Homo sapiens: one gene and its partners. Each later gene encodes a partner of the first gene's protein in a complex. Each region holds a gene or a part of one and is shown in the gene's direction. Other genes may lie near its edges.

Region 1 (7,019 bases):
ACGTGTGGGTAGAGACTCAAAGGGAAGGAAACAAACATGAATTCTATCATGTAGGAGTCTGGAGGTTGAAGTGTATTTCCTGTTTTTTTTCTTTTTAATATTATTAAACAGCATTGGTACACCAGTGAAACCTATTAACAAAGCAAGTTATGCAAATCCCTTTTCCCATTCTTAAAATCAGTCACTTTCATAAATATTCTCCAAATATCTTTGCATATCCTTTTATCATCTTTTTATCTATTTTCTTTTTTTTTCCTTTTTGAAAAAGAGTCTTGCTCTGTCGCCCAGGCTGGAGTGCAGTGGTGTGATCTCAGCTCACTGCAACCTCTGCCTCCTGGATTTAATCGATTCTCCTGCCTCCGCCTCCCGAGTAGCTGGGACTACAGGTGCGCACCACCACACCCAGCTATTTTTTTGTGTATTTAGTAGAGATGGAGTTTCACTATGTTGGCCAGGGTGGTCTTGAACTGCTGACCTCAAGTGATCCACCTGCCTCGGCCTCCCAAAGTGCTGGCATTACAGGTGTGAGCCACCACACCCAGCCTTTTTTTCCCTTCCCCACCACTCACTGCAACCTCTGCCTCCTGGGTTCAAGCGATTCTCCTGCCTCAGTCTCCCGAATAGCTGGAATTACAGGCACCCACCGAGCTAATTTTTATTTATTTATTTATTTATTTATTTATTTATTTATTTATTTATTCATTTGAGACAGTGCCTCGCACTGTCACCCAGGCTGGAGTGCAGTGGCGTGATCTCGGCTCACTGCAACCTCCGCCTCCCGGGTTCAAACGATTCTCCTGCCTCAGCCTCCTGAGTAGCTGGGATTACAGGCGCGTGCCACCATGCCCAGCTAATTTTGTTTTGTTTTTTGTTTTTTTGAGACGGAGTCTCGCTCTGTCGCCTAGGCTGGAGTGCAGTGGCGCAATCTCGGCTCACTGCAACCTCCACCTCCCGGGTTCAAGCCATTCTCCAGCCTCAGCCTCCTGAGTAGCTGGGACTACAGGCACATGCCACCACGCCCAGCTAATTTTTCATATTTAGTAGAGACGGGGTTTCACCGTGTTAGCCAGGCTGGTCTCGATCTCCTGATCTCATGATCCGCCCGCCTTGGCCTCCCAAAGTGCTAGGATTACAGGTATGAGCCACTGTGCCCAGCAATTTTTGTATTTTTAGTAGAGACAGGGTTTCATCATGTTAGCCAGGCTGGTCTTGAACTCCTGACCTTGTGATCCACCCACCTCGGGCCTCCCAAAGTGCCGTTATTACAAGCATGAGCCACCGTGCCCAGCCTTTTCTATTTTTAGTAGAGACGGGGTTTCACCATGTTGGCCAGGCTGGTCTCGAACTCCTGACCTCATGATTTGCCTACCTTGGCCTCCCCTTCTTTCTATTTGAAACTTGCCCCCATTATCATCATCTGATCTCTATCTTGAAATATGATACCAGACCTTAGAGTGTGACATTTAAACTTTGACCAGTCAAAGCGGTCCCTGGGGAGAAAGGTAGGGGAATAGTGGGGCTCCACATATAATGGATAGTTTGGGGTATACCTCTCAGTGCTGATTATGATGGAAGACAGAACTCCAAGTCATCTTATACTGCCCCTAACTAGCACTAGTAAGAACTTTCTAGATGAATGCTGGTGGGCTGAGATACCGTGTCTTCACAGTCCAGCCATGGGCATGAGGCTTTTGGCAGAGAAACAGCTTGACCCTCTGCATAGGTCATGGGACCTGGGGTGTGTGCCTAGCAAACCATCCTCTAGTCTGGCTCCTATTCCCATACTGTTCTTGTAGCCAGAAACAGACTCTGAAGCCATCGAGGATGGTTACTTTCAAGAGCGTAGGCCTTCTTAGCAAATCCTGCCCTTTAGGACAGTAGTCAGGTCTGATATTTCCTTTTAGTTAGTGGTCTTGGGTGTAATACCACCTCTTGAGAAAGAGAACAATTGACAGCCAAGCATCTGGAAAGAGAGGGATAGCTGGATTACCTTGCCTAGGAGCTGTAACCTGCTGCTTCTCTCACTGTCTTCTGGACTCTGTGTTCTGTTACTCATCTCTGTATTTGGCATACCTTAAGATGGTAGCGGCCAGTATTTACTAGTCATCTGCTGTATTCTAGTTACTGTCCTGAGCATTTTATTTATTCAGTCTTCACAGCATTCTTAGGACATAAGAGCTGTCATCTCTATATTCCCTATTCCAACAGAGAAATTAAATGACTGGCTCAAGGTCATATAGCTAAATTAATAAGCGGCAAAACCAGAATAGAAATCCCTGTGGCCTGGGTTCATATCTGCTGCTTAAGTCACTCCCACTATAGGCACTGCTGTCAGCCTTGCCTTCAAAAGGTAGGTGGTTAAAGAGGAAACTAACAAGTAGTTCTTCTGAGTCCCATTCATTTTCTGGAAGTCACTGAGTCATACCCTGGCAAATGAGAGGCAATTACAGCAGGAGCCCTGTCTTGATGAGTAGATAGACCATGCTGTGGCAAGTCCTGGAAGACAGTTGAGCAGAGATCAGGCATTTTTCACATCTTCTGGTTATGAGTAGACAAGGCTGCCTGAAAGATTTTCTGGAAAAGAGTAGTCACTAGAGCTGCAGAGTCAAGTATTCAGACGGTACCCAACATTTAATAAATTTCTACTTGGCATTGAGTATACAGTGGGGAGTAAAACTGTCTTCATGGAGATTGTTAGAAAAGGGATAGACTAGATTAATATAGTACATAAAAATGTCAATTAGTGGTAAGTGCTCTGAAGGAAAAGCAAGCAGAGTAACGGGATAGAGAGCAAATGAGGGGTTATGCTGCTTTAAATAAAGCGGTCACTTCTTTGAGAAAGTGATACTGAAGCAGCGACCTGAATGAAGCAAGGACCAAGCTGTTGAGTAAGTTGGAGCATTAGTTCAAATTGCCAATCCATTCAATTGATCCACCACCCAAGTGAGAGAATACATTCTCTCCAACAGCTTGCAGGGGCAGGATGGCCCTGCTGTGCTGTTCTGCCTCGCTCTTGGGTCCAGAGTTTTGGTGAGTGATACTGTTTTTTATCAGTGCCCCCTGGTGGAAGGAAGATACCTAGCAGGAAGGTTCAGGGCCCTGCACTGTTGGGGCTGCTCAGACATTTGTGCAAGGGAGGTGTTTTGTTTTGGTGTTTCCATCACACTCACAGTGATTTCTCCTTTTCCCCCTTTAGTTTGAAGGATGACCTCTAGGAAGAAAGTGTTGCTGAAGGTTATCATCCTGGGAGATTCTGGGTAAGTTACTCATGAATTTGAGCTAACAGATTGGCTTAGAGCTAAGCCTCTCTGCTGTGGAGCCCACACTGTCCGTGCTGCCACTTCTTGCTTTCATAGTGAGGCTTAGGGCCTTACATGTTTCCCTCCACGGCAGAAATTTAGATGATCCCTTGTTATATAACCTTTTGTTCTCTAGTTTTTAGCATGATTTTTTATGGGGAACGGATGGCTATTTGAACTCAACTAAGGATAGGCATTTTCATGGAATCCCTTTTCTCCAAGCTGGCCAGGCTGGGGAGTCTTCCTTACGTAGATGTATTGCCATTGGCATCTGGCGTAGCAGATGTGCTTTTTTTTTTTTTTTTTGGAGACAGAGTCTCGCTCTGTCGCCCAGGCTGGAGTGCAGTGGCGCGATCTCGGCTCACTGCAAGCTCCGCCTCCCGGATTCACGCCATTCTCCTGCCTCAGCCTCCCGAGGAGCTGGGACTACAGGCGCCCGCCACCACGCCCGGCTAGTTTTTTGTATTTTTGGTAGAGATGGGGTTTCACCGTGTTAGCCAGGATGGTCTTGATCTCCTGACCTCGTGATCCGCCTGCCTCGGCCTCCCAAAGTGCTGGGATTACAGGCGTGAGCCACCGCGCCCGACCCAGATGTGCGTTCTTAGTGCACCATACAGTATCCTCCTGCTGCTGTGCCTGCTTCAGATCTATCTGCAAAAGAGCCTGGGACGGCAGAACTGGGTTCTGATTCTAGATGTGCCACTAACCATGTAGCTAACTCTAATGGCTCTTAAGATTCTGTGGTAGGTTGGGTGAGGTGGCTTATGCCCATAATCCCAGTGCTTTGGAGGCTGAGGGGAGGATTGCTTGAGCCCAGGAGTTGGAGACCTGTCTCTACAAAAAAAATTTAGCCAGGTGCCGTACCTGTAGTTCCAGCTGCTGGGGAGGCCGAGGCGAGAGGATGGCTTGAGCCCAGGAGTTTGAGGCTGTAGCAAGCTATGATCATGCCGTTGCACTGCAGCCCGAGTGACAGAGCAAGACCCCAACTCTTAAAATAAAAAGATTCTGTGGTAGGCTTTTCAGACTTGGCATCTGAAGGGACCCATGAAAGCTTTGACTCATTGGAAGCTTATGTATTTTTAAAAATAACAACAATAGCAAATGCAGGTATGCTTCTTTATTCCAAAGTCCCCTGCCCTTCCTTTGAAAAGCCAGAGGTTTTTCTGTCTTGACTGGCTTATTTGAATCACCTGCAGAACCTTTTTTTGTATGTGTGTGAGAGACAGGGTCTCGCTCTGTTGCCCAGACTAAAGTGAATGGTGCAATCACAGCTCACTGCAGCCTCAACCTCCTGGTCTTAAGCCATCCTCCCACCTCAGCCTCCAGAGTAGCTGGGACCACCAGTGTGTGCTACCACTCCTGGTTAAATTTTTGTATTTTTTATAGAGACAGGGTTCTACCATGTTGCCCAGGCTGGTCTCAAACTCCTGGGCTCAAGCAGTCCACTCGTCTCGACCTCCCAAAGTGCTGAGATTACAGGCTTGAGCCACCATGCCCAGCCTTTGAAGAACCTTTTGTTCGCTAGCATTTGCCCAGCCCCAGACCAGTGGGCTAGGGCCTAGATTTGTGCTCTCTCTCCTACCCCGCAACTCCATCCCCGTCGGGATGGAAAGATAGTGCTTTTAGGCCTGCCTTCCCCAAACTTGTGCAAAAAGTCTCACCAAGCCCTTGTTCGATTCCAGGTTTTGCCACCTCTCACCTTGTAGATTCTGGCTTAGATGGTCTGGGTTGGAAAACACTGCCTTCGGCTGTCTAGGTACCTCCAGGTTCTTTAACACAAATATGAACATGTTCCTTTGTGGCCAAGAAAGGTGATATCACTGGCTATGGGGGGGAAGGTTTTTGTATTAGCTTTAGGTTACCTTAACCTTATCACACAAAAATCACACATTGTCTCTTGCTGAGTTTTCTTACTAGAAAACATATTTGGAGGAGCATTCTTTGAGGTGGATTTGTTTTGGTGATATATTGGTGCTTTTTCTGCTTCAGATTTTAAACTTTAAAGCAGCAAATTGTCTGAGTGGTGTGTGTCTGCTGAAAGCCAAGGTCTTCCTCCTGGTGTTACTTCATCAAGCTAAATAGCAGCCACTAAATGGAGAAACATCTAAGATAGCAGGGATACTGTTGGAATAGCAGAACAGTCTTAATAGTGAAGCTTCTTTTAGAAAGCAGTATATTTGCTGGCATCCTTCTAGAATGGAAAAAATAATACTAGGCTCTACCATTTGACCTGGCTGTGCCAAAACATGTAAGCAGCTTTTCCACATCTGCCCCACATCTGTACCCTATATTTTTACCCAGAGAGAAAACACAAAACTTCAAAAGTGTAATGCTCGGAAGGCTACTGGCATTGCCCTTTGCTGTGAGGGCAGTTTCTTGTCCTTCAGGTCAGGCAGATTCTTTTAAATGCTTCAAGTAATTCGTGTCAGTTTCAGGACCCTCCTATTTGACTTATACTTATGGTTTTTCTCCAATTTCAGAGTCGGGAAGACATCACTCATGAACCAGTATGTGAATAAGAAATTCAGCAATCAGTACAAAGCCACAATAGGAGCTGACTTTCTGACCAAGGAGGTGATGGTGGATGACAGGCTAGTCACAATGCAGGTAAGCACATGTCTTGGCTGTGCTGACCAGGCCTTGATAGTTCATTTAGTCTTAATCTTTCCTCATGCATAGACATTTTCCTTCCCTGTTCTTCAAATCTTATTATCTTATTTGTAGATAATTGGCTGATACTCAGTTAAATTTGAATTTCAGATCAATAGTGAATACTTTTTTAGTATACTTCTAGTGTATCTCAGATACGACTTGCTAAGACACACTAAAAAATTCTTCTTAAAAAAAAACTCAGATTTATCCTTTCTTGTTTTTTGTTGTTTTTGGTTTTGTTGTTTGCTAAATTTGGCAACCTGCAGGTCTCTGTCTTGTGCCTCTCTTGACATCCTTGCCCAGTGCTTTAGGTAAACATCTTTGTCTCACCTCAGTAGTGAGACATAAACTTTATTTTTCTGACTTCCTATTTCATACGTAACTTCAAGAGTTGTGTGTCTATTGAGCCAATCTTTTTTTTATGTATCAGCTTATTAATCTTTCAAGGGTTCCCTTTCAACAGTTAGGATAAGATACAGATTCTTTCATATGACTTGTTGAAAAGCCTTCACATTCTGGCTATAAACTATTATTCCCTTTTTTTCCCCCATTGAGTCATTTTGTTTGTATACATGTATTAACATCCCTAGAAAAGAAACCCCTGAAGGATGGATACCTTGAGCCCAGGAGTTTGAGCCTGCAGTGAGCTGTGACTGCTCCATTATACTCCAGCCTGGGTGATGGAGTGAGACCCTGTCTCTAAATTTAAAAAAAAAAAAAAAAAAAAAAAAGAATCCCAGGATTTTCCCTCCTGTATTTTCATCTCTTTCTTCATGGTCCATGATGCCAGCTGAGGTTGTCAGTACAACCTCACTTTGAAACCAAACTATTGGGATAGGAGTAGATTATCCTGTCATTTTTCTAGATCTTTGAGTTGCACATCACATCTGGGGCCAATCATTCCAGGGGCAGTTTTAACCTGCCTGTGAGGTTTACAGTAATTTTCCCAGCTCTGTGATGACCAGTGATTTCAAATTTTCAATGTGATCATGTTTCATCTTCACACTTAGAACCAGACCATGACTTGGGAGCACAGCCTAATAAGAACCTGGTGTTTGCCCTTGAGAG
Region 2 (7,019 bases), about 69 Mb from region 1:
ATGACATGTTAGAGGCAAAACTGCAGACACTTCTAACATTCGGGGTAATGGCAACAGTGGTGAAATATTAGAAGCAAAGTTCCAATTTCACATATATTTCATGAGAACCTCTATGATCCCAGTTATGTGTTAGGCACTAAATGTTTTTTATATATGTATATATATACGTGTGTGTATATATATACACACACATATATGTGTGTGCGTATATATGTATATATATGTGTATATATGTGTGTGTGTATATATATATGTATATATATATAAGCCAGACAGAGTTACTGCCTAAGGGAGCTTACCATTTGAGAAAGGTTAAGATGTGGAGAGTGAGGGAGAGATTTGAGTCCTTTGTTTTGTGTTTGTGCATATGAGGGGTTGTGTCCCTGTGTGCCTTAGGATGCTCGTCTTCTCATTCACTGTTTTACACCAAAGCTGAGTTTGTCTTTCTGCCTGAGTTTGTAACACTTTGACCTTTTCAGTGCTATGCATAATGTTACTAATTCAGCCTGGTTTTGATTTGGATAGAGGCAAATTATAACCTGTGTTTAGAGCTTCACCTGCTCCTTTCTCCTGCATAGAGTGTGGCACCTGGCTGTTACCCTGAGAGCTTAGCTGGGAGCACCTTGTAATAGATTCCAGGTTCCCTTACCCACCCCGTTTCCATTGCGCTCCCCTTATCTCTGGTTTCCATGTAGATGCTGACATCAGAAGGAACACAGCCTCAAGCAGCAAATCCTTCGTTTCCTCCCAGTCCTTGTGAGTACTTTTTTTTACCAAAAAAAAGAAAAGAAAACCTTAGGATATGTAGAGAAACAAACCCAGTTCTTGGTGTATGGCTGGGCAAAGCCATCCAGATGTAAGAGGAGGCGAGGTTAAAGGGAGGGGCTTGCTGATGGTGCCGAGCCCACGGGAAGAAAGCAGAAGCTCTTTGGTCCCAGTGGGATGGGCTCTCGTGGAGGCAAAGCTGGAAGTGAGTTATTCCTTCTCTGCTGACTCTCATCATAACCAGAGGCCCCAGAAGGTCTCAAAAGAGAGCAGTGATGATGGTTTTTGGTTATGAAATCAAATTGAACAGATTCCACATCATAGACCCAACCAGGGGACACAGTAGCTCATTTGGGAGGAAAAATCGCTTTGTAGTCCACAAAGCAATTTTACTCACTTTGTTTTGTAAGCAGGCATTATAATCTCCATTTTGCTGTTAGAGGAGCTGAAGTTCAGAGAAAGGAAGTGACAGAGTCCTTCATTAGCAGTGCCGTGCAGTGGCAGGAAGTGGGGCTTGAACCGAAGTCTTAGGACCGTGAGACTAGTGGACTTTGACTGTCCCATGTGTGAGGGTGATGAGCAGGCCAGGGTGCTGCGGGTGTTCTTCCAGCCCAGAAGTTGCTGCGTGGGGGATGAGATCATGAAGGGAAGCCTCGCATCGCCCATCCTTTCCCTGTGTTCAGCCGTCCTTGATTCTCCCCTTTCCAGCTCCCACTGCTTCCTGCACTCCACGTCTGCTGAGGCGGTGGCCATGGGGCTCCTGAAGCAGTTTGAGGGGATGCAGCTTCCAGCCGCCTCGGAGCTGGAGTGGCTTGTCCCGGAGCATGATGCCCCTCAGAAGGTAGGTCCTTAGCTCTTCTTCCTACCCAGGGGCCATCGTGAGCCTCTGTGACCTTGTTTTCCTTCGTCACATGTCCCTAGTCTGGAATGAGCCTGGGTGTTCCCCCCTTACTCGTGGAAGCCATTCATTACAATGTGTCAAGTGATAAATGAACGAGTGAATGCTTGCTCACCTTGTCAGAGCAGAGATGACGGCGCGTTCGCGGTCCTTATTCACGTGACTGCTCGCCAGACTCAGTCATGTTTGGTTTGTGACCACCTCGGAGACACTACGCAAAAGTAAATCGCTTGGATTCTTTGCTCTGCAGTTGTCTTTAAGGCATGAAACACACTGGCACAGCAAGGGTCCTGGGATGGGTGCAGGGACAGCATGAGCCGTGGGGCCACTGCCCTGGTAGGCTGTTTCTGTTTGCTTCTTGGAACCCACGGCCCTCACTTGTAGTACCTTGGCGCCTCCTGGTTGTTTCTGAGGTTCCCTGAAGCCCTTATCCTGTGGTGTTCCTGAAATGTCTTTCACTCATTATGCTCTGTCATGGCCAAAAGGGTCCCGCATTTCTGTTTCTCAAGCCCGTCCGTGTGAACTTACCCCAACTGTGTTTTTCTCCTGCCCATCCCTGACTCACTGCCCATCTCACCAGATGACGGGCAGCACACTGACACGAGCTTACCCCAACTGTGCTTTCCTCCTGCAGCTCCTGCCCATTCCTGACTCACTGCCCATCTCACCGGATGACGGGCAGCACGCTGACATCTACAAGCTGCGGATTCGTGTTCGTGGCAACTTGGAGTGGGCCCCGCCCCGGCCTCAGATAATTTTTAATGTTCATCCAGCCCCAACGTGAGTGGCCAGTGTCTGTGCCCTTTGGAGCACAGATCCGTCCTCTTTGGATTGTCAGGGTTTTCGTCTCACCCACTTGTCCCTGCCTCCAGCTGTCCTTCCCACACCGTTCTCTTCATTTAAAGGCAGAGGGGGGGCGTCGTCCATTTGGTCCTTCGTTTCTTACTCTTAATTCCTGGAGCTAATTGGAAACGAGGCGGGTTTTGTTTTGCTGGCATTCCCAACCTGTAGCTTTCCTCCCAGTAGTTGTGTGGGCTTGCTGGTTTTTCTTCTCTTTCTAAGATAGATGGATGCTCTTCTCTCCTGTCATTCTCTCTCCTTTACCACATCTCATTCCTTATATTTGTACAGAATGTGTGGTTCCTTACTGGGCAGAGTGACTGCCTAGACCTAAATCTTATATGGAGTTAGCTCTCCCAATAGGTTCATTTTTGTCCAACTAAAATGTAGGTGAATTCCCCTCTCTTCCCATACTTAACTGGAGCTGTATGTATGTGTGCTCACTCCTTCACACCTCCAAGGTCTCACGCAGCTGCTCTGTGCCAATGCCCTGTCCTTACCCTTCCTCAGGAGGAAAATTGCCGTGGCCAAGCAGAATTACCGCTGTGCAGGATGTGGCATCCGGACTGACCCTGGTGAGTGCCTTCCCTTCCCACCATGCTGCCTCCAGAGGCTCTGTACCCTCCCCGACACGTAGGGAGAGGTGGCGTGTCAAAGGCGGTAGCAGGAGGTGGCGTGGCAGAAGTAGGGAAGGAGAAAGAAAGGTTCGTAGTAGGCAAGAGTGCTGGCAATCGGAGGGAAATGATTTCTGGGAGCACATGGCCAGGATTGTATCCTGTGGAAAGTTGGGTAGTTCCAGCTAGCTGGTAAGGCGGGATCTTACTATCTCCAGCTGGTTTTATTTCCTCAGGGCCTCCAAGGTAGGACATTATCACCCCAGGATCCACTATGTGGATTTCTGCAAGCTTTGGGGAACTCAGACAGAGGTTGCTGGAGGCCATTGGCTGTCCCTCTCTGCCCTTTCAAGGGAAAAGCAGAGCTGCCTTCCCAGCTTGTAGATGGGAAAGTTACATCTGGCTTTCTGGCTTTCCGGTTTTTCCAGATTACATCAAGCGACTGCGGTACTGTGAGTACCTGGGCAAGTACTTCTGCCAGTGCTGCCACGAGAATGCCCAGATGGCCATCCCCAGCCGGGTTCTGCGCAAGTGGGACTTCAGCAAGTACTACGTCAGCAACTTCTCCAAGGACCTGCTCATTAAGATCTGGAATGATCCTCTCTTCAACGTGCAGGACATAAACAGTGCCCTCTATAGGAAGGTCAAGCTGCTCAATCAAGTCCGGGTAAGACCTTGGAAAAGGCCACCTTAGAGTCTTGCCCTTCTCCTCCCCTCATCCCCTCCCCTCGTCCCTCCCCCGTCCCCTCCCCCCATCCCCTCCTCTTGTCCCCTCCCCCCATCCCCTCCCCTCGTCTCCTCTCCTTGTCCCCTCCCCTGGTTATATAGGGCTTCCCACAATTACCACACTTCTTGTTATCGCAGTGTCAAAGCTATAACCGTCTCTCCGTTCATGCCCTCACTATGTACTTTCTTAATCTCTTCCCATTTCCCAGGTTATCTGTCTAGTTGGAGCCTCAAACGTGGCAATGGCAGCTAGGAAGCTGTAGATAGCACTTGAGGGCAAAAGCAGAATTTCTTCCTTCACTAAAAACATTAGTGAATGAATGAGGAATCGGGTATCGAGTAAGAAATTGGAATTTCGGAGCACTCCTCTGCCCAGACTGCTTATGTGACTCGGGCAGACAGACCTGGCGGAGGGGCCTTCCCTGACTAGAGGGCACTCTGAAGCCAGTTGTCAGAGTGAGTTAGAGCAAGTTAGAGCATAGGACAGTCTGAAGCCAGTTGTCAGTTAGAGCGTAAGACAGTCTGAAGCCAGTTGTCAGTTAGAGCGTAGGACAGTCTGAAGCCACTTGTCGAGTTAGAGCGTAGGACAGTCTGGAGCCAGTTGTCAGTTAGAGCGTAGGACAGTCTGAAGCCACTTGTCGAGTTAGAGCGTAGGACAGTCTGAAGCCAGTTGTCAGTTAGAGCACAGGACAGTCTGGAGCCAGTTGTCAGTTAGAGCGTAGGACAGTCTGGAGCCAGTTGTCAGAGCGTAGGACAGTCTGGAGCCAGTTGTCAGAGCGTAGGACAGTCTGAAGCCAGTTGTCAGAGCACAGGACAGTCTGAAGCCAGTTGTCAGTTAGAGCACAGGACAGTCTGGAGCCAGTTGTCAGTTAGAGCGTAGGACAGTCTGGAGCCAGTTGTCAGAGCGTAGGACAGTCTGGAGCCAGTTGTCAGAGCGTAGGACAGTCTGAAGCCAGTTGTCAGAGCACAGGACAGTCTGAAGCCAGTTGTCAGTTAGAGCGTAGGACAGTCTGAAGCCAGTTGTCAGAGCGTAGGACAGTCTGAAGCCAGTTGTCAGAGCACAGGACAATCTGAAGCCAGTTGTCAGTTAGAGCGTAGGACAGTCTGGAGCCAGTTGTCAGAGCGTAGGACAGTCTGGAGCCAGTTGTCAGAGCGTAGGACAGTCTGAAGCCAGTTGTCAGAGCACAGGACAGTCTGGAGCCAGTTGTCAGAGCGTAGGACAGTCTGGAGCCAGTTGTCAGAGCGTAGGACAGTCTGGAGCCAGTTGTCAGTTAGAGCGTAGGACAGTCTGAAGCCAGTTGTCAGAGCGTAGGACAGTCTGGAGCCAGTTGTCAGAGCGTAGGACAGTCTGGAGCCAGTTGTCAGTTAGAGCATAGGACAGTCTGGAGCCAGTTGTCAGAGCGTAGGACAGTCTGAAGCCAGTTGTCAGTTAGAGCGTAGGACAGTCTGAAGCCAGTTGTCAGAGCGTAGGACAGTCTGGAGCCAGTGGTCAGAGCATAGGACAGTCTGGAGCCAGTTGTCAGAGCGTAGGACAGTCTGGAGCCAGTTGTCAGTTAGAGCGTAGGACAGTCTGGAGCCAGTTGTCAGAGCGTAGGACAGTCTGGAGCCAGTTGTCAGAGCGTAGGACAGTCTGAAGCCAGTTGTCAGTTAGAGCGTAGGACAGTCTGAAGCCAGTTGACAAGTTAGAGCGTAGGACAGTCTAAAGCCAGTTGTCAGTCAGAGCGTAGGACAGGCTGAAGCCAGTTGTCAGTCAGAGCGTAGGACAGTCTGAAGCCAGTTGTCAGAGCATAGGACAGTCTGGAGCCAGTTGTCAGAGCGTAGGACAGTCTGAAGCCACTTGTCGAGTTAGAGCGTAGGACAGTCTGAAGCCAGTTGTCAGAGCGTAGGACAGTCTGAAGCCACTTGTCGAGTTAGAGCATAGGACAGTCTGAAGCCAGTTGTCAGAGCATAGGACAGTCTGAAGCCAGTTGTCAGTTAGAGCACAGGACAGTCTGAAGCCAGTTGTCAGAGCGTAGGACAGTCTGGAGCCAGTTGTCAGAGCGTAGGACAGTCTGAAGCCAGTTGACGAGTTAGAGCGTAGGACAGTCTGAAGCCAGTTGTCAGTTAGAGCATACGACAGTCTGGAGCCAGTTGTCAGAGCGTAGGACAGTCTGAAGCCAGTTGTTAGAGCGTAGGACAGTCTGGAGCCAGTTGTCAGTTAGAGCGTAGGACAGTCTGAAGCCAGTTGTCAGTTAGAGCGTACGACAGTCTGGAGCCAGTTGTCAGAGCGTAGGACAGTCTGAAGCCAGTTGTTAGAGCGTAGGACAGTCTGGAGCCAGTTGTCAGTTAGAGCGTAGGACAGTCTGAAGCCAGTTGTCAGTTAGAGCATACGACAGTCTGGAGCCAGTTGTCAGAGCGTAGGACAATCTGAAGCCAGTTGTCAGTTAGAGCGTAGGACAGTCTGGAGCCAGTTGTCAGAGCGTAGGACAGTCTGGAGCCAGTTGTCAGAGTGTAGGACAGTCTGAAGCCAGTTGTCAGTCAGAGCGTAGGACAGTCTGAAGCCAGTTGTTAGAGCGTAGGACAGTCTGGAGCCAGTTGTCAGTTAGAGCGTAGGACAGTCTGAAGCCAGTTGTCAGTTAGAGCATAGGACAGTCTGAAGCCAGTTGACGAGTTAGAGCGTAGGACAGTCTGAAGCCAGTTGTCAGAGTGTAGGACAGTCTGAAGCCAGTTGTTAGAGCATAGGACAGTCTGAAGCCAGTTGTCGAGTTAGAGCATAGGACAGTCTGAAGCCAGTTGTCAGAGCATAGGACAGTCTGGAGCCAGTTGTCAGTCAGAGTGTGGGACAGTCTGAAGCCAGGTATCGAGTTAGAGCATACAACAGTCTGAAGCCAGTTGTCGAGTTAGAGCGTGGGACAGTCTGAAGCCAGCTGTCAGAGTGTGGGACAGTCTGAAGCCAGGTGTCGAGTTAGAGCGTAGGACAGTCTGAAGCCAGTTGTCAGTCAGAGTGTGGGACAGTCAGAAGCCAGGTGTCGAGTTAGAGCATAGGACAGTCTGGAACCAGTTGTCGAGTTAGAGCGTGGGACAGTCTGAAGCCAGCTGTCAGTCAGAGTGTGGGACAGTCTGAAGCCAGGTGTCGAGTTAGAGCGTAGGACAGTCTGAAGCCAGTTGTCAGTCAGAGTGTGGGACAGTCTGAAGCC
Region 3 (7,893 bases), on another chromosome or scaffold:
GAATGTCAGATCAGCCTGTGGACTGAGCTCCATTCATAGGATAAGCAGTAGCTGAGCTCTGAAGGATGAAAGCCCATCTCTGACGTCTGTTGCCCACTCCTCCCCATCCCCTGCCTCCTCCATTCATTCATTCAACACAGATTTACCGTGTCCTGTGACGCAGGCACTGTGTTAGACAACAGGAACCAGAAGATGGCCCCAACAGAGTCCTGGCCTCAAGAAGTTCACTTTCCTTGATAGGAAGGAGGGCATGGTGGCCCGTGCCTGTAGGACCAGCTATATAGGAGGCAGAGGCAGGAGGATCGCTTGAGCCCAGGAGTTAGGGGCTGCAGTGAGCTATGACCATACCACTGCACTATAAACTGGGCAACAGAGCAAGACTGTCTCAAACCTATATATATATATATATATGTGTGTGTGTGTGTGTGTGTGTGTGTGTCTGTGGTGTGTGTATATATATACACACACGCATATATATATATATATATATATATATATAACCTTGATAGGGAGGAGACAGACATATGTGACAACCTATGTCCAGAACCACCTAGCCTGGAACTGGGACTTTTTTTTTCTTTTTTTTTTTTTGTAGACAGAGTCTCACTTTGTAGCCCAGTCTGGAGTGCAGTGGCACAATCTCAGCTCACTGCAAATTCCAACTCCCAGGTTCAAGTGATTCTCGTGCCTCTGCCTCCCAAGAAGCTGGGATTACAGGGGCTTGCCACCACACTAGGCTAATTTTTGTATTTTTTTTTTAGTAGAGACGCAGTTTCACCATGTTGGCCAGGCTGGTCTCAATCTCCTGACCTTAAGTGATCTGCCCACCTTGGCCTCCTAAATTGCTGGGATTACCGACATGAGTCACTGCACCCGGTTGGAACTGTCACTTTCTACTTGGAACTGAGCTCCCTTTCCAACACCAAAATGTGTCTTTCCCACAGCTCATTCCTTTGGAATTTGAGTTCGCAAATTCTTTGCGCAAAACATCTAACTTCTATTTCTGTAACTGAACTTGATTTGAATTCCCATTGTGCTGGGTGTCAGAATCTTAATCATGTCAGGTAATTAAGCAACCTCTTCTCCCTTCTTACCATAGGCTAGGGGAGAGAGTCGAGGCCCCAGATGGGACTGGAGTATTCTCAGTCCGAATAGTGAACACAGAGTCATCCTCAATCCTCTCTACTCTCGTGGTCTTGAGGGGCCACTGCTACCTCCTCCTGGTCCTGACCTTGAGGCTTCTCAGCACTGGCTTTCTCTGAATTCCTTCTGTGCACAAGTAAGTCATTCAGCTTCTTCCTGAACAATAAGGATTTCTCATCCAGATACCCCTGTTCCGTGGTTACTCTACTGTTACCAAACCATGCTTGACCCAGAGGGGAACTCTGCAAAGCTCACCACCTCCCCCAGCTTCCCCAGGGAGAAAGACACACACACCCTCTCCTCTGAGACCTCCAAACCTATGTGGGTATCTGTCGTCACTACCACTCCTGCCTGGTACCCGTGCACACCCAAGGACTGTGTTTGGAGAGGCAGATGCATTGAGGTCTAAGCGTTCTTGCATCCTTAACTTTGAAACCATAAAAGCATGTTCTTTTCTTTGATCTCTGGATGTTTCATTTTGTTTTTTGTCATCTCCCTCTTTCGATGCCTCCTGCAATGAATTGTATGTGGGAGGAAGGGAGAGGCAAACATGTACAAGGACACAGAGGTATCCTGGGAGAAACTGTGACTCATACTATAAAATATTAATCTCACTCACTTATATAGCACCTTGTACTTTATATTAATTAATTAATTAATTTATTTATTTATTTATTTATTTACTGAGGCAGAGTCTCACTCTGTCACCCAGGCTGGAGTGCAGTGGCACAATCTCAGCTCACTGCAACCTCCGCCTCCCGGGTTCAAGCAATTCTCCTGCCTCGGTCTCCCGAGTAGCTGGGACTATAGGCACCTGCCACCACGCATGGCTATTTATTTTTATTTTTTAGTAGAGACAGTGTTTCACCATGTTGGCCCTCAAACTCCTGACCTCAAGTGATCTGCCATCCTCGGCCTCCCAAAGTGCTGGGATTACAGGCATGAGCCACCACACCCAGCCAAAACATGTATTTCTCATGGAATAACTGCATGCACTAGAGCAAGCTAATTGGGAAAGTCAACAGTTTATGAAATAATGATGAGTTGCTGGCACCTGATGCACATTCATAGTCCCATTTAACTCTTCAAGTGAAACTCTCACTTGGCAGGAATTTACTATTAGCCATTTTCCAAATAAGAGATACAGACGAGAGAGTCTCTATCTCTTCTTTGGTGCAAGGAGATTGGTGCAGTCGGTGAATGGCAAAAGTGGATATGTACCCAGATCTGTCTCCAGTCCAAATTCCAACTCATCACTTCCCTTATCTGCCAGGCTGGATAAGGGAAGTGGTTCTGCTTCCAAACTTAATATGTGACAGATAAGGCAATCTAAACCAAAGTCTTCTTGAGTTTGGTCAAACCATATGCTGCCAAGGCTTGAATCCACATAACTGTAACAAGCCATCCCAACTATGCCACAACCCACACAACTCAAAGGCAAGGGAATCCCAGGCGACAAGGTCCAGGAACAGCCACTCTGGGGAGTCTGCCACCTCTGATATTGCTCCCGTGGCACACATGGTGCCCCATCTGCCTCCAGACCTGCGCTGAAGGAATGGGGGGAAGGGGCAAGCTTTGTAGGTGTGGGTGATCCAGTGGTCACTTGAGGTCTCTCAAACAAGGACTCTGTAGATGATGTTAATGGGCCAAACGGAATGCACATCTGCCCCTAAGTGTGTTTCTTTTCTTTCTTTTCTTCTTTCTTTCTTTTTTTTTTTTTTTTTTTTTTGTTGAGACAGGGTCTTGCTCTGTTGCCCAGGCTGGAGTGTAGTGGTGCAATCTTGGCTCACTGCAACCTCCACCTACTGGGTTCAAGTAATTCTTCTGCCTCAAGCCTCCCAAGTAGCTGGAACCACAGGCATGTGCCACCACTCCTGGCTAGTTTTTTTATTTTAGTAGAGACGGGGCTGGTCTGGAACTCTGGGCCTCAAGTGATCCACCCACCTTGGCCTCCCAAAGTGCTGGGATTACAGCTATGAGCCACCGTGGCCAGCCTTGTTTATTTCTAAATGAGGCTTCCTTTGTGTCTCTACATTTCCTTCTACAAAAAAAACTGCCATGGCACAGGGGCTTATGCCTACAATCCCAGCACTTGGAGAGCCCAAGGCCAGTGGATCACTTGAGCCCAGGAGTTCGAGACCAGCCTGGGTTAACATAGTGAGACCCCAGCTCTACGAAAAATTTAAAAATTAGCCAGCCATGGTGGCATGCACCTGTGGTCCCAGCTATTCGGGAGGCTGAGGTGGGAGGATCACTTGAGCCCCGGAGTTCCAGGCTGCAGTGAGGTCTGATCTGGCCACTGCACTCCAGCCTGGGCAACAGAGCAAAGTGCTGTCTTAGAATAAAATACTTTTTAAATAAACTAAAAACAAAACAATGGGCCTGGTGTGGGTGGCTCACATCTGTAATCCCAGCACTTTCGGAGGGCAGGTGAGGCAGAATAGGGAATGAGGGTAACCAAGGGTTAAGGCATAAACAAAAGAACAGCAGGTGCAGCCAGTTCTAGGCAAGATTAGGCAGCATAGAGGCCACGTGTTCATTCCCTCAATCAGAGGCTGATTGACGGACGACAGGGGGTTGGCCGGGGGGGAGGGTGACAGCTTCTGATTGACGGGGGGGCGGGTGCGCGTCTCCACTTCAGCCTCTGATTGGTCACAGGCCAATCCTTCAGAGGGTGTAACCAATCGGAGACCTCTAACGGGCACCTAGGGGCGTTACCTAATTCTTCCAGCTTAATGAAAATCCTAATGGGGGCTCTTGAGCTGTTTGCTCTGTCTTGCTCCTGCTCTGTGAGTTGTACTTTCGCTTCAATAAATCTGTCTATTCCTTACTCCGGTTTTTTCTTTTGTTTCTTTTCGTTGCTTTGTTCTTTTGTTACTTTGTGCATTGCATTTTGTTCAGTTCTGTGTTCAACAAGCCAAGAACCTGGGCAATCCACGGTCAAGACCTTCCATCCAGTAGCAGAGGCAGGAGGATCCCTTGATGCCAAGAGTTAGAGAGCAGCCGGGGCAACAAAGTGAGACCCTGTCTCTACTATCTATCTATCTATTTTTTAATTATCTGGGCATGGTAGTGCATGCCTGTGGTCTCAGCTACTCCTCAGGCTGAGGTGGGAAGATCCCTTGAGCCCAGGAGTTGAGGCTGCAGTGAGCTATGATGGCACCACTGCACTCCAACCTGGGTGACAAAGCGAGATCTTGTCTCTAAATTAAATTTAAAACAATACCACCAAAACAACAACAGGCTGGGCGGTGGTGTCTCACGCCTGTAATCGGAGCACTTTGGGAGGCCGAAGTGGGAGACCATTTGAGGCCAGGAGTTCGAGAGCAGCCTGGGCAACACAGACCCCACCTCTACAAAAAAATAAAACTGGCCTTGGTGGCGCGCGCCTGTAATCCTAGCTACTTGGGAGGCTGAGGCAGGGGGATTGCTTGAGTGTCGGACGTTGAGGCTGCAGTGAGCTGAGATCGCGCCACTACACTCCAGCCTGGATGACAAACTGAGACCCTATCAGAAAAAACAACAACAACAAAAAAACAGTGCCCGCTCGGTTTTTCCTGAAACGCGCAGCCCTCGCCTGTAGCCAGGAGAAAACTCCGCGAGCCAGCAAAACACAAACTCGGCCAGGAAACAGACAACAAGGCCACCCGGGGGTGCCTGAAGAGGACGCTGCGAGGCGGATTCTTTTTCCGGGCCTGCGGCGAGTGCTTCCGGGGCGGTGGCGACGGAGGCGGAAGTGCGGTGTTTTAGCCGGTGGCTGCTGTCTCTGGGCGGGCCGTGGGAGGCTCCCGAGGTGGGGGCCGGGGCGGGATGGCTGCAGCGGCGGCCGGGGCCGGGAGCGGGCCCTGGGCGGCCCAGGAGAAGCAGTTCCCGCCGGCGCTGCTGAGTTTCTTCATCTACAACCCGCGCTTCGGGCCGCGCGAAGGACAGGTATGCGGAGGGGGCGGCGCGCGGGCGGGCGGCGCCGGTGTTCCCCGGGAAGGTGGCCCTGTGGTTCTGCCCACCTCGAGGGGCACTGACCTAGCCTGCATTGTGCCAGGTGCGAGTCCGGGCAGGGGGCTGCGGCGGGGACCTGACAGCAGGCAGGGACCGCTTCAGGTCCTAGGTCGATGGAATAAAGCCCCGTCGGGTCTATATCACTCCACACCCCAGGTTGAGGCTCTTTGCGCTTTGCTTTGCGTCAGTTCTGGGAAATTAAAATTGAACTTGGCTTTGTTAAGTGGGTAGTCCCCAACTAGAAGCGTGGAACCAGGGTGGCAGACGCTAGCCTTCAAATGATGCAAGCCTGGAGGTCCCTGTAATAGTTTTCGCCCAAATGAGGAAATAAATTAATTTCGGGAGGGGTGTGTGTGTGTGTGTGTGTGTGGTTTTTCTGAGGTGGGGACGGCGACTTTCTCAAAGGATGTCCGGAGCTGTGTTTTGTTTCCAGCAAGTCAGACTTCTGTTAAAGACTGTCCAGGCTGGGCGCTGTGACTCACGCCTGTAATCCCAGCACTTTAGGAGGCCGAGATGGGAGGATTGCTTGAGGCCAGGGGTTCCAGACCAGCCTGGGCAACATAGCAAGACCCCCAACTCTACAAAAAAAAAAAAAAAATTGAAAAGTGAGCCGGGCGTGGTGGCACGCACCTGTATTTCCAGTTACTCAGGAGGCTGAGGCCAGAGGATCGCTTGAGCCCAAGTGATTGAGGCTGCAGGTGAGCTGTAATAGCGCCACTGCACTACAGCCTGGGCAGCACAGACCCCATCTCCAGAAAAAGAAAAAAAAAACAACTTGTCAGTTCAAATGGCTGGGAACTGACTGGATTTAATTTTCAGGGAGCTATGTGTCTGCAGATGGGCACACCTTTACTTCTTACAAGCATTGGTGTATTACAAATTAGCACTAGGAAAGAAACCTGGAGACTTGAGTTTTCATAAAAATTACCTGGTGCTACTTCAGATGTGACTTCTTGACTATCGAAATTGCCTTTCTGACTGGTGGGCAGTATTTGCACAATGATGAGATCATTCCTGTTCTTCTTCTTATTTTAAATAATAGAGACGTCTCACTGTGTTGCCCATGCTGGTCTTGAACTCCTGAGCTCAAGTGATCCTCCCGCCTCAGCCTCTGAAAATACTAGGATTACAATTCCTGTTTTTCTAAAACCGGTTTTTGTTTTATTTTGTCATTAGCATGTGTGACACAAGAGGTCGACATTGAACTTAGCGTTTTCAATAGCTAAGATGAAATGTTTCTATTCATGTTGTGCTTCTGTTTCCTCATGTTTCAGGAGGAAAATAAGATTTTATTTTATCATCCAAATGAGGTAGAAAAGAATGAGAAGATTAGAAATGTCGGATTGTGTGAAGCTATTGTACAGTTTACAAGGTAATACCTCTAAGTGTGCCTTTAGCGTTCAGTGAATTCTTAAAACTGCTGCTGGAGAATTGTCCCAAACATATTTTTTTAACCTTTGTAGGACATTTAGCCCATCAAAACCTGCAAAATCTTTACATACACAGAAGAACAGACAGTTCTTCAATGAACCAGAAGAAAATTTCTGGATGGTCATGGTATTTACACACACAGTGTATCTTTCTGAAATTGTATGGTGAAGTTATGGGTGATCTTTACTGTTCAGAATTTAGGAAAGTTCTCTGGCTGTTGCATCCAAGTAAAATTAAAATAAAATTGGTTGCAATTTTAAAATCAAGTTCTTCCTATTTGCTTTATTCATTCTTGGGGCTGTTTTAAGAAGTTGTGTTTCTGGTGCTGTAGCATGTTCAAAGTTTTTAAATTAAGGCAAAATAAACATGGTCTAATGAATTCATTGTATAATTTCAGTTTATCAAACTTTGTAGGTTGTTCGGAATCCTATAATTGAAAAACAGAGTAAAGATGGAAAACCAGTTATTGAATATCAAGAGGAGGAGTTGTTGGTAATGTGTCATTGTTTGTTTATTTATTTATTTTTTTAAATGTATTGCTGAGTATGTTGAATGCCTTACTTGGTCGGATTTAAACTAGGAGGCTTTTGCAGAAGTTTCTCGGGGTATATAGCAAAGGTTTATGTTTATCATTTACATGAGCACAATCTTTTTAAAATGTATATGCACCCAATCTCACTAATACCTTCTACTCTTCATCTATATTGAAAGCCCTCCTAAAGTAAGGCTTACTGATTGACAAATTAGAGTTTAAACACTTCTGGCTGGGAACAGTGGCTCACACCTGTAATCCTAGTACTTTGGGAGGTCAAGGCAGGCAGATTACTTGAGGTCAGGGGTTCGAGACCAGCCTGGCCAATATGGCGGAACCCTGTCTCTACTAAAACTACAAAAACTGGCCAGGGATGGTGGCGCACACCTGTCATCCCGGCTTCTCAGGAGGCTGAGGCAGGAGAATCGCTTGAACCGGGGACGCAAATGTTGCAGTGAGCCAGGATTGTACCACTGCGCTCCAGCCTGGACAACAGAGCGAGACTCCATCTCAAAAAAAAAAAAAAAAAAAAAGAACGCAAACACTTTTTTTCAGCACGCAACTATTGTGGGATGAAGTTTATAAACATTATACTGTTTGGCCAAGAGTCAGTGTACCTTTGCCATCTATCCAGTAGACATTGTTTTTCCCTTGAACTGAGCTGTGTGCTGTGTTTTCGCGTCTGCAGGACAAGGTTTATAGCTCGGTGCTGCGGCAGTGCTACAGCATGTACAAGGTAAGCGTGGCGTTCTTTCTCAACTCAGAGTCCAACCACTTACCCCTATCTCTAG
Region 4 (7,019 bases), on another chromosome or scaffold:
AAGAAAAACCTTGGAACATAACAGAAAAGCTTTTGTATGTCTCTTTTTTTGTTTTTTTGTTTGTTTGTTTTTTTCTGTACATAAATATATGCCTTTCCCAATTTTTGTTTAGGAAACAAAAATTTCTAAACTATGCATTTTTGTAATAGTCTTTATTTCTTTTAGCATGTTGTAAACTTTCCCCATGTCAACAGATATTTTTCAAAACATTTTTATATCGCTTTGATTCATTTATATGGGTATATAATTGATGATAGTTGAAATAAGATTGGCAAAATATTATATTTGAAGCTCAAAATGGAATTCATTTTACTGTTTCCTCAGCTTTTGAGTGTGTTTGAAATATTCCAAAAGAAAAATCCAGACTTGAATGGTGTATTCCTGAGAGAGAGTTGCAATGGCCATCTCCACAAAACACCTGATGACTGAGGAATAGATGAGACGAGGGCAGATTTTTAGTCATAAAAAATGAGTTCAGATTGAGTTGAAGTTTTTGCCTACTGTAGATCATTAGATGGACTAATTTTTCATTTATGCATATGTCAAACTATAATTTTGCTGAGACATAGTATGGTTAGAAGGACGTAGTAGAACTTAAAGCTAGATAAATAATGAAGCACCATATTAGAAAGCTCTGAATTTCCATGTGATAAGTTTGTAGGCTAAAGGGGCAAATGCTTTAGGAAAATTTCGTAGCAATATGTTTGGTGTTTAAAGTAGGGAAGGTCTGAGTGAGAGATTGCAGTTAAAAGCTGTTTATTACTAAAGTGAAGGCCAGTTATCAGGAGGATCTGAACAGGGAAGGAAAATGGGCTGAAATCACAAGTTTGAGTTGACAGCTGAATGTTTCTAGGGAGTCAAATATCCCTAGGATTCAAATTGAGTTAACTGGGAGTGGCAAGTTGATTGATAGTAGTGAGGACAGAGAGACAGTCAAAGAAAGGTTTTAGCTCTGCTGAATATTTAGTCCCAAAGGAACATCCAGGTGGTGATGTCCAGTAGTTGGGAATGTAGAACTAAAGTGAAGAAGAAGGGAAACCAAAGAAAAAGTTGATAGTTTTTGAGACTACTGGAGTGGCTGTAATTTACCAGGGAGAGAGCAAAAAAGGGTGAGAGAACTAGTGGCAAACTTTGGTAACAGTTGCATATAAGGTGCAGGTGGTATAGGTGGAGAAAAAGAAGCTAGAGGAGAGGTGATCAGAACCAATTGTGTAAAGTGTTGTGGAAACTAAGAAAAAGAAAAATTTTAAAGAAAAGGAAGAAAAAGTTTAAGGATAATTGATAGAGCAAAGTCAGGAAGGAGACAGGAGGATTGGATCCAAAGTAAGTATACAGATAGAGGGATATTTTCTCCTCTGAAGTAAGATAATACTAAAAATGATGGTAGGGAGAAAAGGTAGCTTCATATTGATCTTTTTGGCAAATAAGGTGATAGCATGCACAGAGTAAAAGAGAGTAGGGAGAGTAGACTTTAGGGAAACAGGAAAGATTTACAGCTGATGTTTGAGAGACTTAGTTGTTTACAGACTGATCAAAAGAATGCTAAGCAGCCCTGAACACCTTGCCAAAGATGGATGGCTAACTTGATGCTAGATCCAAGCGGCAAGCTCAAGAGCAGGAAAGGGCAATAGTGGGGCTAGTAAAGCTGGGGATCAAAAAACATGAGGACGAGAAAATAAAATATTGGTAAGAACATCGTTGTAATCTTGAGACACAGGGTTGGATAGAAGAGCAAGTGGTATCAGGAGACCAACAGGACCATGAGAAGAAAAGAGGAATGATTGGGCCGGGAAGTTGCCTAAAAGTAGTGAGCAGACAGGATTGTAAGAGGTGAAAAATAGGAGCTTGTGATCAGAGACTAATTGAAAATGAAAGATCTTTGATGTGGACAAGTTCCAAGTGATGACCGAGTCTAAAGCCTGATCTTCCCAGACAGCTGAAGTAAGAGAGGACACAGGTTGAGGAAACCTGAAGTCAAGTTATGAGAAAGGGGTGGTGTTACTTAGATTTATTTAGGATGGCCCTAAGATCTTTGGAAAACAAAGAGCCTTCTCATTCTTTCTCTAAGTTCTACATAAAGGGATAGCTTGGGCAAGTGCTGTTTTAGAGAGTGTGGGAAGAGTGACAGGAAACAAGTAGCACCTTTAAGTGCTAACACACCTAGAATATCTATAGAAGCATACACTAGAAGCTACTAAGGTCAGGGAAGGGACAGTATGGCTGGGAGACAGAGGTGGAAAGAATATTTTTTACTGTACATCTTTTTATACCTTTATACCTTTCAAATTTTAAACTACGTGTAACAATTAAAAAATAAGAAAAATAAAAACAACGTAGATATTACAGATGCAGATAGTAACCAGCTTGTTTAACTTTAAAGCAGTTTATCCCTTACTTGTTCTTTCTGGTTTTGAAAAAGATGAATGTGATGGGTACGGTTGATAAAAAGAATCTGTAAAAGTACGTTATTCATAGTATAGTATTTTGCTACATTATTTTCAAGCACTGCTCTCTTAATTTGAATCTTTCATCATATGTCTTGTAATCCCTGGAGTATTTTAGAATTTCCTTCAGTGGAATCACAGCTTTCCCTCACTCTAAGTCTGATTTAGCCATTAATAGAATCCTTTAAATAGATCTCTCTCTGTTCACTTCTTCAGTTCAAACTGAGAGATGTCATCTAACCTAAGAAGAGATAGAAAGCAATTAGGAGTTAGCATCCTGGCACTCTTTTTGGGATCCTGTGTCATCATCTGGTTTGAAAAGGTAAACATCTCCAGGATATCAGCACATTCAGGGTTTGAGAATTAGCACACTGATTCATCCAAAAGCCAAATAAAATATTGTTGAGATTTTCCTATTATTCTTCTATTAGTTAAATAACCAGAGGTAATGGCAATTATATATATTTAATTAAATACATTTAACAAATGTAGTAATTTCTATTGCAATAATTTACATGTTTTCCCTTTTAAAATCTTAAACCAGGTGTGAAAATCACATCAACACTGCAAGTGTTGAAGCTTATCAAGCAGGCTGGTGACCGAGTCCTGGTGTACTATGAAAGGCCTGTTGGCCAGAGTAATCAAGGTGCAGTGCTGCAAGATAACTTTGGCCAGTTGGAAGAAAACTTTTTGTCAAGCTCATGCCAATCGGGTTATGAAGAGGAAGCTGCCGGGTTGACAGTAGATACTGAAAGTAGAGAGCTGGATTCTGAATTTGAAGACTTGGCAAGTGATGTCAGAGCACAAAATGAGTTCAAAGATGAGGCACAATCATTAAGTCATAGTCCCAAACGTGTTCCAACAACACTTTCTATTAAACCCCTTGGAGCTATATCACCAGTTTTAAACCGTAAATTAGCTGTAGGAAGTCACCCACTACCACCGAAAATTCAGTCCAAAGATGGAAATAAACCTCCACCCCTAAAAACTTCTGAGATAACAGACCCAGCACAAGTGTCAAAACCAACCCAAGGATCTGCTTTCAAACCACCTGTGCCACCACGACCACAAGCGAAAGTTCCTTTGCCTTCCGCCGATGCTCCAAATCAGGCAGAACCAGATGTTCTCGTTGAAAAGCCAGAGAAGGTGGTGCCACCTCCTCTTGTAGATAAATCTGCTGAAAAGCAAGCAAAAAATGTGGATGCCATAGACGATGCAGCTGCACCTAAGCAATTTTTAGCAAAGCAAGAAGTGGCCAAAGATGTCACTTCAGAAACTTCCTGCCCTACTAAGGACAGTTCGGACGACCGTCAAACATGGGAATCATCAGAAATTCTTTATCGTAATAAGCTAGGAAAATGGACAAGAACCAGAGCATCCTGTTTGTTTGACATAGAAGCCTGTCACAGGTACTTAAACATTGCATTGTGGTGCAGGGATCCTTTCAAGTTGGGAGGTCTCATCTGTTTGGGGCATGTTAGTTTAAAACTTGAAGATGTGGCTTTAGGATGCCTAGCTACATCAAACACGGAATACCTTTCCAAATTGAGACTGGAAGCCCCCTCACCTAAGGCTATAGTCACTAGAACCGCACTACGCAATCTGAGTATGCAAAAGGGATTCAATGACAAATTTTGCTATGGTGACATTACTATTCACTTCAAATATTTGAAAGAAGGAGAATCAGACCACCATGTAGTTACTAACGTAGAAAAAGAAAAAGAACCCCATTTGGTTGAAGAAGTTTCTGTTCTCCCTAAAGAGGAGCAATTTGTTGGACAGATGGGTTTAACAGAAAACAAACACAGTTTTCAGGATACTCAGTTCCAGAACCCAACATGGTGTGACTACTGTAAGAAAAAAGTTTGGACTAAAGCAGCTTCCCAGTGTATGTTTTGTGCTTATGTTTGCCATAAAAAATGTCAAGAAAAGTGTCTAGCTGAGACTTCTGTTTGTGGAGCAACTGATAGGCGAATAGACAGGACACTGAAAAACCTTAGGCTGGAAGGACAGGAAACCCTCTTAGGCCTGCCTCCTCGTGTTGATGCTGAAGCTAGCAAGTCAGTCAATAAAACAACAGGTTTGACAAGGCATATTATCAATACTAGTTCTCGTTTATTAAATTTGCGTCAAGTCTCTAAAACTCGCCTTTCTGAACCAGGAACCGATCTCGTAGAACCTTCACCAAAACACACACCCAACACGTCAGACAACGAAGGCAGTGACACGGAGGTCTGTGGTCCAAACAGTCCTTCTAAACGGGGAAACAGCACAGGAATAAAGTTAGTGAGAAAAGAGGGTGGTCTGGATGACAGTGTTTTCATTGCAGTTAAAGAAATTGGTCGTGATCTGTACAGGGGCTTGCCTACAGAGGAAAGGATCCAGAAACTAGAGTTCATGTTGGATAAGCTACAGAATGAAATTGATCAGGAGTTGGAACACAATAATTCCCTTGTTAGAGAAGAAAAAGAGACAACTGATACAAGGAAAAAATCACTTCTTTCTGCTGCCTTAGCTAAATCAGGTGAAAGGCTACAAGCTCTAACACTTCTTATGATTCACTACAGAGCAGGCATTGAAGATATAGAAACTTTAGAAAGTCTGTCTTTAGACCAGCACTCCAAAAAAATAAGCAAGTACACAGATGATACAGAAGAAGACCTTGATAATGAAATAAGCCAACTAATAGACTCTCAGCCATTCAGCAGCATATCAGATGACTTATTTGGCCCATCCGAGTCTGTGTAGCAGACAGGTCTATTTAAGCTTTCAAATGAACAGGGTAAAGTTGCATCTAAAGTACCACAGATACAACCATGTTTAAATCCTCGTATGCACTCTGGCCTGCTTCTCCAGTTACTTGCTTGTGTAAGAACAAAAATGAGAAAGGTTGTTTTCCAGTAAAAACATGACCAGCTTACTAATTGGTTGTTTTGGATTGCATTTATAGCTATGCTTTTTTGGGTTTATACTGGGAATTTATTTTTACTAAATTATTTAACTTTTCTAATTATGTAATTATGTAAGCTAGCTTTTCATGTTTATGTATGTATGGTGTCCCCTTGTGTTATTTTTCTTCCTCTTGGTTTTTGAATTAGTGTTAAATAGAATACTGTCTAGATTCTTAAAATATTTTCATTTCCATCATGGTTATAACAAATTTGCTGCATGCCCAAACTGACAACAGCAATCACTGAGGGAACAGGTTTTGAATCTTTCTTTTGTGTTATGAAGTTTATCGTCTCTACTTGCTTGAGATTTTTGTTATTTTGGGGGTTTGGGGGTGCTTTTTGTTTTGTTTTTGCCAAATGTAACATGAAAGCAGATGCTGCAGCTTTAGTCTGTTATGCTGATTTAGTAAAAAAAAATTTTTTACATATATTGCTTGCTTTCGATGCTTCTGTGAAATTTTTTTCTAAAGCTTTTGTGCAGCTGTATGGTAAAAATATGGTGATTAATTTGAAGAGCTTACATTGAAAGACAATGTAATAGGAAATAAATGTAGATTGCAGTTGGTCAAGAATTTTGTAGAGAGGATAACAAGACTTAATTACTGAAAAACAGTAACATAGCATTTTGAAATATAATCTTTTAAAATATTGATGCTTTCCTTTTAAATGGAAATTTAAATTTTATAATTAAAAGTTTAAACATTTATGATAATTTTCCTCATCAGTTCTCCCATAGGAAATAAAGCATGTGAAAGGGTATTTAAAGTTTTGGAGGACTCTTTTTAAAATGACTGTGTTGATAACTAGTTTGGGCTGGTTTTGTTTTAGAAAAAACATTTTCATGTAGGAGTATTCTGTGAAGGAAAGGAATCATGCAAAATATACTTTTTGCTTTGGCGTCTTACAGTTGTAAAGGAATGGTGATCATTCTGAATACTTCTGTAGTGAGTATTCATTAAGAAAAGAATGACAAAAATAGTATTCATACATAGGAATTGGGACCAGTTCTCTGAAAATGAAGATATACTCACACTGGGTCCATTTTACGGGTCCCAGTAACATTTGACTGAGGGAAAACAAGTAAGCTCGACTGTTGTTGGGGTACCTTAATGGTTTCGGTCTGTTATATACCTATAAAATAGACAAGTATATGTTTGTCCCTTTGTAGGTAACTGCTATGATGATTGCTATATAGTGAAACTGACATGAGTTTAAAACTAGATGGAGCAGCTTTTATTGCTGGCAGGAAAAAGCATGGTGTAATATTAAGGACTGGGGCCCAGGTCTAGACTCCAGGACTCCATAAAAGAGTTTAAGTTCAAGCCCTTCCATTAATGAACTGTGTAAGCATAGGCAGTTACAAAAGGACCCATCTCTAAAATGGGAATAATAATACTTTACCTCCCTCACAGTATTGTTGTGAGGGAAACAATAGCATAACTGCAAAAGTGCTTTGAACAGTAAAAAGATATACAAGTAAAAGGCATTATTTATATGAGTAAGAAAGACATTTTTGAGGGGAGAAAAGTTATTCCACTTTAAAAATCAATAGCCAAGTCTCATGCCTTTTGTTACTTTAGTAAGCGAAAATTTCAGGTACTAAATACCTTTCTTAGCCAAGTTT

What was found.
Region 2: the proteins of RAB7A (region 1) and RUBCN are in contact, whole or in part, in a crystal structure (PDB 6WCW), measured with the Homo sapiens proteins. Residues at the interface, in NP_004628.4 of Homo sapiens: Ile41 (codon at 5,847), Gly42 (codon at 5,850), Ala43 (codon at 5,853), Asp44 (codon at 5,856), Trp62, Gln71, Ser72, Leu73, Gly74, Val75, Ala76, Phe77, Arg79, Ser101, Asp104, Glu105, Ile108, Gln109, Ser111; in NP_055502.1 of Homo sapiens: His818, Asn821, Met822, Lys824, Thr825, Arg827, Leu883, Gln885, Ala886, Lys887, Gly888, Phe889, Ile890, Glu892, Gln895, Glu897, Ile900, Pro903, Cys915, Lys916, Arg931, Arg934, Arg938.
Region 3: the proteins of RAB7A (region 1) and CCZ1B are in contact, whole or in part, in a cryo-EM structure (PDB 9L0D), measured with the Homo sapiens proteins. Residues at the interface, in NP_004628.4 of Homo sapiens: Ser17 (codon at 3,253), Lys21 (codon at 5,787), Tyr37 (codon at 5,835), Lys38 (codon at 5,838), Thr40 (codon at 5,844), Ile41 (codon at 5,847), Gln67, Glu68, Arg69, Phe70; in NP_932765.1 of Homo sapiens: Glu38 (codon at 5,065), Glu41 (codon at 6,414), Lys55 (codon at 6,456), Asn56 (codon at 6,459), Ile59 (codon at 6,468), Arg60 (codon at 6,471), Gly63 (codon at 6,480), Leu64 (codon at 6,483), Ala67 (codon at 6,492).
Region 4: the proteins of RAB7A (region 1) and PDZD8 are in contact, whole or in part, in a crystal structure (PDB 7F6J), measured with the Homo sapiens proteins. Residues at the interface, in NP_004628.4 of Homo sapiens: Lys10 (codon at 3,232), Leu14 (codon at 3,244), Asp16 (codon at 3,250), Ser17 (codon at 3,253), Lys38 (codon at 5,838), Ile41 (codon at 5,847), Gly42 (codon at 5,850), Ala43 (codon at 5,853), Asp44 (codon at 5,856), Phe45 (codon at 5,859), Gln60 (codon at 5,904), Trp62, Gly66, Glu68, Arg69, Phe70, Gln71, Ser72, Leu73, Gly74, Val75, Ala76, Phe77, Tyr78, Arg79, Thr98, Ser101, Trp102, Glu105, Phe106; in NP_776152.1 of Homo sapiens: Ile999 (codon at 4,722), Lys1000 (codon at 4,725), Leu1001 (codon at 4,728), Val1002 (codon at 4,731), Arg1003 (codon at 4,734), Lys1004 (codon at 4,737), Glu1005 (codon at 4,740), Gly1007 (codon at 4,746), Leu1008 (codon at 4,749), Asp1009 (codon at 4,752), Asp1010 (codon at 4,755), Phe1013 (codon at 4,764), Ile1014 (codon at 4,767), Lys1017 (codon at 4,776), Gln1044 (codon at 4,857), Leu1051 (codon at 4,878), Asn1054 (codon at 4,887), Asn1055 (codon at 4,890), Val1058 (codon at 4,899), Leu1077 (codon at 4,956), Leu1084 (codon at 4,977), Gln1085 (codon at 4,980), Thr1088 (codon at 4,989), Ile1092 (codon at 5,001).

The regions. Positions count from the first base shown.
Region 1 is NC_000003.12:128,792,164-128,799,182, forward strand, and holds part of RAB7A (ras-related protein Rab-7a), read left to right. Parts: intron 1-3,196; 5' UTR 3,197-3,204; coding exon 3,205-3,257; intron 3,258-5,779; coding exon 5,780-5,906; intron 5,907-6,677; exon of another isoform or gene 6,678-7,019.
Region 2 is NC_000003.12:197,677,894-197,684,912, reverse strand, and holds part of RUBCN (run domain Beclin-1-interacting and cysteine-rich domain-containing protein), read left to right. Parts: intron 1-695; coding exon 696-756; intron 757-1,473; coding exon 1,474-1,606; intron 1,607-2,297; coding exon 2,298-2,443; intron 2,444-3,013; coding exon 3,014-3,078; intron 3,079-3,545; coding exon 3,546-3,784; intron 3,785-7,019.
Region 3 is NC_000007.14:6,823,258-6,831,150, reverse strand, and holds the start of CCZ1B (vacuolar fusion protein CCZ1 homolog B), read left to right. Parts: upstream 1-4,875; 5' UTR 4,876-4,953; coding exon 4,954-5,073; intron 5,074-6,413; coding exon 6,414-6,511; intron 6,512-6,602; coding exon 6,603-6,696; intron 6,697-6,984; coding exon 6,985-7,062; intron 7,063-7,790; coding exon 7,791-7,838; intron 7,839-7,893.
Region 4 is NC_000010.11:117,281,441-117,288,459, reverse strand, and holds part of PDZD8 (PDZ domain-containing protein 8), read left to right. Parts: intron 1-2,660; coding exon of another isoform or gene 2,661-2,689; exon of another isoform or gene 2,690-2,766; intron 2,767-2,988; coding exon 2,989-5,192; 3' UTR 5,193-7,019. UniProt on the Homo sapiens protein: Molecular tethering protein that connects endoplasmic reticulum and mitochondria membranes. PDZD8-dependent endoplasmic reticulum-mitochondria membrane tethering is essential for endoplasmic reticulum-mitochondria Ca(2+) transfer.